Regions from separate parts of the Homo sapiens genome. Here region 1 is linked to region 2. Evidence: fine-mapped expression QTL. A gene starts in region 2. The other region holds a variant in brackets. All regions are shown on one strand. Distances are between the middles of the regions. Region 1 has its middle 7.5 kb from the start of SMARCD3. Region 2 holds the start of ABCF2 (ATP binding cassette subfamily F member 2).

The links. PIP is the estimated chance that this variant, and not a neighbour inherited with it, causes the effect.
Region 1: its variant is the best candidate, but not a certain one, in a credible set for the expression of ABCF2 in spinal cord (GTEx, PIP 0.67).

Annotation. Positions count from the first base shown.
Region 1 is chr7:151,254,774-151,257,550 of GRCh38, reverse strand. It overlaps a transcript of SMARCD3 not described here. Among named protein-coding and RNA genes, the nearest start is that of SMARCD3, 7.5 kb to the right of the region's middle. RefSeq lists enhancers at 416-916, 917-1,417. The variant T/C (reference allele first, on the strand shown) is at 1,647.
Region 2 is chr7:151,225,794-151,228,570 of GRCh38, reverse strand. ABCF2 (ATP binding cassette subfamily F member 2) reads left to right here and starts at 1,366. Exons shown (of 15, transcript NM_007189.3): 1 at 1,366-1,408; 2 at 2,071-2,266. The coding sequence starts at 2,113. ABCF2-H2BK1 (ABCF2-H2BK1 readthrough) reads left to right here and starts at 1,366. Exons shown (of 17, transcript NR_160983.1): 1 at 1,366-1,408; 2 at 2,071-2,266. RefSeq lists enhancers at 1,190-1,269, 1,380-1,429 and a silencer at 1,530-1,589.

The DNA of each region.
Region 1 (2,777 bases), 29 kb before region 2:
GTTCGAGACCAGCCTGGCCAATATGGTGAAACCCCATCTCTACTAAAAATACAAAAATTAGCTGGGTGTGGTGGCGGGTGCCTGTAGTCCCAGCTACTCAGGAGGCTGAGGCAGGAGAATCGCTTGAACCCAGGAGGCGGAGTTTGCAGTAGATTAAGAACTGACGGCAGCATTTGCCAATGTGGAGGCTACCGGTGGCCCTGCCAGGAGCATTTCAGTGGAGCAGCGGGAGCTGCATCTGACAGGATTGGGATTCAGGGAGAATGGAGGAGCACAAATGAGACAACTCTTTTCAGAAGTTTTGTTGCTACTGGGCAGCAACCTGTAGGATAAGTAGGGTTAAGAGAGATTGTTTCAGGAGGCCGGGTGCAGGGGCTCACGCCTAAAATGCCAGCAGTTTGGGAGGCTGAGGCGGGAGGATCACTTGAGCCCGGGAGTTTGAGACCAGCCCAAGCAACATAGTGAGATTTTGCCTCTATTTTTTAAAAAGTAATAAAAAATGAAAGAAGAGCGCTTATTCCAATGGGGATGTAACAGTACTTGTGCATGCTGCTGGGGGAACTCCAGGGAAGAGGGGAATGTTGATGAAATGATGGTGTGGGAGAGAATTGCTGGAGCAGTGTCCTTGGTGTGGAGGAGGGACGGAGCTGGCACACGGAGGCACGGCTGGCTGTAGTCGGGAACACAGATAGCTCATCTGGAGGAACGGGATCAGCTGCTGGCAGGCAGAGGGTGTGGTGGGAGGCTCTGGAAGTTCTTCGGAAGCTTCTTTTTTCTCAGTGAAGGGGAAAACGGGCACAAGCTGGGAGTGAGGAGGATGGAGGAGAGGTTGGAAGTCAGAGGAGGGAGAAGCTGCAAAAAACTCCTGTCGGGGTGTGGGAGCGGGCATATTTGTGACTGTGCTGTGAGAAGAGTGGCCTGCCGGGCAGCACGATGCCAGCTGAGCTCGTGCCGAATCCACAATGAGACCGGGTGGGGTGGCTGTGTGTCTTTCTCTGGCCACATTCAGGTGCGTGGTTGCAGGGGAGGAGCTGGTGAAGCTGGATTTACCTCTTAAGAGAGTCAAGAGTGTACACAAGGGGTCAGGTGCAGTGGCTTATGCCTGTAATCCCAGCACTTCAGGAGGCCAAGGTGGGTAGATCACTTGAGGTCAGGAGTTCGAGACCAGCCTGGCCAACATGGTGAAACCCTGTCTCTACTAAAAATACAAAAAGTAGCTAGGCATGGTGGTGTGCACCTGTGGTCCCAGCTATTCAGGAGGCCGAGGCACAAGAATTGCTTGAGCCCAGGAGGCAGAGGTTGCAGTGAGCTGAGATCGCGCCACCTGGGCAACAGGGCGACACTCTGTTTCAAAAATAAAAAAAAAAAAAGCCAGGCGCAGTGGCTCATGCCTGTAATCCCAGCACTTCAGGAGGCCGAGGCAGGCAGATTGTCTGAGGTCAGGAAGTTTGAGACCAGCCTGGGCAACACGGTGAAACCCCGTCTCTACTAAAATACAAAAAATTAGCTGGGTATGGTGGCAGGCACCTGTAGTCCCAGCTACTTGGGAGGCTGAGGCAGGAGAATTGCTTGAACCTGGGAGGCGGAGGTTGCAGTGAGCCGAGATCGCGCCACTGCACTCCAGCCTGAGTGACAGAGCAAGACTC[T/C]GTCTCAAAAAAAAAAAAAAGTACATGCAAGGGAGGTTAAAATGGTCAATTGTGTTATGTGTCACCGTCAAAACAACCAGGAGATTCAATGTGTAAGAGCAAGGGGTAGCTGTGGGGAGGGGTGCAGAGTGGTGAAATGAAGCAGAGGTTCCAGAGGAGTCGCAGGATTTGGAGGTCAGGGAGCTGGACAGGGTGAACTGGAAAGAGGAAAAAGAGGAGACGGTGGTCAGCGAGTAGGGTGCATGGGACTGAAAGTGGGGGGCTGCGGTTGCTGCAGTGATCTAAGAGATGACCTTGGGAGTGCATGGCTGAGGGAACAGGGAGGATCGCTGGAAGAGGAGCTGCCAAGGAATGGAGAGGCCAGAGATGTCTGGAAGAGCATGCAGCAGGCTGGACAGGAGTGGTGCTCCGGAGAGTGACATGAGCCAGGAGCCAGAATCCGCACAAAGGAAGCCTCCCTAGCTGGGGGTAAGATGCAGAGCCAGGGCTCTGGAAACAGCAGTGAGGGGCAATGGGGGGCCATACCCACCCTTAGGCCAGTGGTCGAGCCACTGCTGGAAGGGAGCCTGGCATCTGCTTCTGGAAGGCAAAGAGGATGCTTCCAGAAGAGGTGGAGCATGTTGGAAATGTTCCTTAGGACAGACAACACAGTAGGAGGGTTTCAGGGGCTGGGGAGAGATGGCAACTGTAGGAGGGTCTAGGGCCTTGTGGGGCTCAAAGTGCAGGAGTTGAGGGGGTCTGGGGCTTTCTGTGGTGACTGATGCAATTGGGGATAAAGGGCAGCATGAGATTGAACCTGGTGCCCTCAAGGCCGAGGGCAGGTCGAGGGCTCCCCTGGCCCCGTGGTGCAGAGTGGAAGGTGCAGTGTCAGACCTGCAAGGACAGCCGGGCGACGAGTCCGCGCAGCACTTCCACGGGGGTTTTATTTACACATCCCACTGCCCGCTGCCATTTGATTTAATATTCCCAAAAATTTGTTTAGAAATGCAGATGGACTTTTTGTTAACTATTCACTTCTCTTCACTCCGGTGACACCCAGACCCCAGAATGCAGTGATTGGCAGGAATCCCCCTAAACACCTGTTCAGAGCAGTAGCTGAGGCCCGTTCCTGCCTCACAAGTCCTCAGAAGC
Region 2 (2,777 bases):
CGGCCTTCCAAAGTGCTTGGATTACAGGTGTGAGCCACCACACCCGGCTTGTTTACTTTTCACATGTTCCTTCTTTATTATGAGCTCCCTGAGGTCAGGGAGTGACTTTGCACCATTGCAACTCCAGCACATATATCTGAGCCTGACAGATAGTAGGCACTTCGTTGGTGGAGGATATTCTAGGAAAATGTATGTTCAAAGGCATGCAGGTGTAAAATAGCACGCTTAATCTCCGAACTATTTAAGTAGGTAAGTTCTACTGAAGTATGAGTTTGAGAAGAAAAACTAATTCTCATTGTTTGAGTCACGGACTGTGGGCGAAAAGGTGCCACATTTGGAGAATATGCTCAAAGGGAGCAATAGCTTCCTTTGCTGCCCCAAACGTCACTGATGGTGAGGCTTCTGCTGCACAGGAGCCTGGAGAAGTAACAAAGATCACAAAGGGCCTGCCTTGTACTTGAGGCTAAACATTTGGAGTTTACAATGTAGGTAATGTGAAGTCCTTGAGAGATTGTATTTATTTTTAAACCATCCAGCCCAAAATGTCATGTGAGAGATTTTAAACAGTGAGACTCAAAGGGAAAGTAACGGGCCCGGTAGCATGGCTAACTAATAATAAAACAAATCTCAGCCAAGGGGCCTTTTTATCTCGGGGCCCTTTCCACCAAACTTGCATGGCTTCAGTGGAAACCTAACAATGCGGCAGCGGGGAGGCTAAGCGGCCGAGGTTCCAAAACAACGTCTGGCACCTTCTAAAAGTTTAACAATGAACCAGCCTCTAAAATTAAGGTTTAATGAAACCAAGGCGCTTTCTTTCGTGAAGGAATTCCGTTGGCAACATCTTTGCAGCGATGCCCCGCTTTCTGGAACCCCTCCCTGCCCAGCGCCCCCTTCATTTTAGTCCTCCCCTCACGCTCCCACCTCTCCTCTCCCATTGTTTCGATCTACTCCCGCTGAGGCAAGCTGGGAAGTGTAGTTGCACGCCCTGCTGCCTGAGTCGGTTAGGTAGCTCTAAAAACTCGTAACTCCACAACAGCTCAATGGATTTTCGAGAGGTGGGGTAAAGCCTGAAGGCTCAGCCGGTTTATCCAACGAGCAATCTGGGATTTGCAGTTTCCAGCGCCCGAAGTGCGCCCGCTAGCAGAGAGCTCTTGGACTCTAATCCCGCCCCCTCCCCGAGCCTCGCGCATCCTGATGGCGTCACGCGGCCCCGCGAGGTCTGTGGGATACATAGTAGTCCTCAAGGCGGGTCTCACTCTTGGCCGCTGCAACTTGAGGACTACACTTCCAAGGAGGCAGCGCGGCGCGCCGAGAACCACCCGAGGCCGTGATTGGCTGGTGAGCCGGCCGCACGCGGAGGATCCTAAGGAGCAGCTCTGTTGCGACATAGGCCGAGCAGCGAGGCCCAGTGAGTTAGGGGAAGGGGAGCTGTAGGGAGAGGGTCCCCGCCGGTGAGGGGGAAAGAGAATTAGAAGAGGAAGCAGGGACGGGGTTTGGATGGAGGGCTCTGCGAGGGGGAAGATAGGGCTAAGGGAGAGAAGCTGACGGGCGGGGTGGGGGAGGACCCGGGGGTGACGAGCGTGGAGACTCGGAGGGGACTCACGCGGGCGAGGACGAGTGCGTCCCGGCAAGAGGCTGGGCTCGACGGCCGGGTGATGTGGAGAGGGACGATCGAGAAGAGGCCCGAGACGGACGGGAGGAGGAAGCCCGGAAAGTGAGGCGGCTAGCTGAGTGCGGAGCGCCAAGTTGTAGGGAAACCGGAGACGGAGACCTCCGCTGAGGGGCAGAACCTGGTCCCCAGCCGGAGGCCCTGAAAGAAGGAGCGTTTCCAAAGTGAGGCAGTCCGTGGGGGACTGGTGCCTGTGGGAAGAGATGTTAAGATTAGAAGAGCCGCTGAGAATCGGCATTGGTTTGGGATACCCTGACCAAGTTGGAACAGACGAGGCGGGGGCAGGCCAGGGCATCAGAGGCTTGATGTTGATACGAAGATTCCTGAGAGGGATGGAGCAGGGCCCAGGCATTCTTACTAGTAAGTTTAGGGTTTGGGGGTATCTGTTTGCCTTCCTTCAGGCTCCCTGAAACAACAGTAACCTACCCCTGTGGGTCATCATCATGCCCTCCGACCTGGCCAAGAAGAAGGCAGCCAAAAAGAAGGAGGCTGCCAAAGCTCGACAGCGGCCCAGAAAAGGACATGAAGAAAATGGAGATGTTGTCACAGAACCACAGGTGGCAGAGAAGAATGAGGCCAATGGCAGAGAGACCACAGGTGAATTGAGGGAGGGGTGAGTTGGGGATGGTTGCTAAGACTTAATGCATGCCCCAGCCAGAGTTGGAATCTTGATGCTGGGGGTAGTGGAGAATGTATCTGGTGTCATGCAACTTTTCATGATGAATCAAATCAGTAGAGTTGGAATTCGTGCCACCCTGTCATTGCGCAAGGAAGCCGAAGACGAGGTTCTCACATACTCAGTGGCAAGCGGATGTGAGAGTTGCTGAGCTGCCTTGCTGCTCTATTAGATTGTGAGGAGGGGATCAGTTCCCTGCCCCTTTCTCAGTTTCCATTTCTATGCATGGTGACCAATGTGCCAGGTTCTTTGCTACATTATACAATAAGCTTGTCCTCTCACTGGTGTAGTGGCTCTACCTACAAGAGAGTAACTTATGAGTTGATTTATGGGGTTTTTCCTGGGAGAGAGCTCCCTTTCTGTTATTTATATTTTGGGAAATATTTATTATTTCTCAAGTGCTAGACATGGTGCTATACACTGAGGCACTAC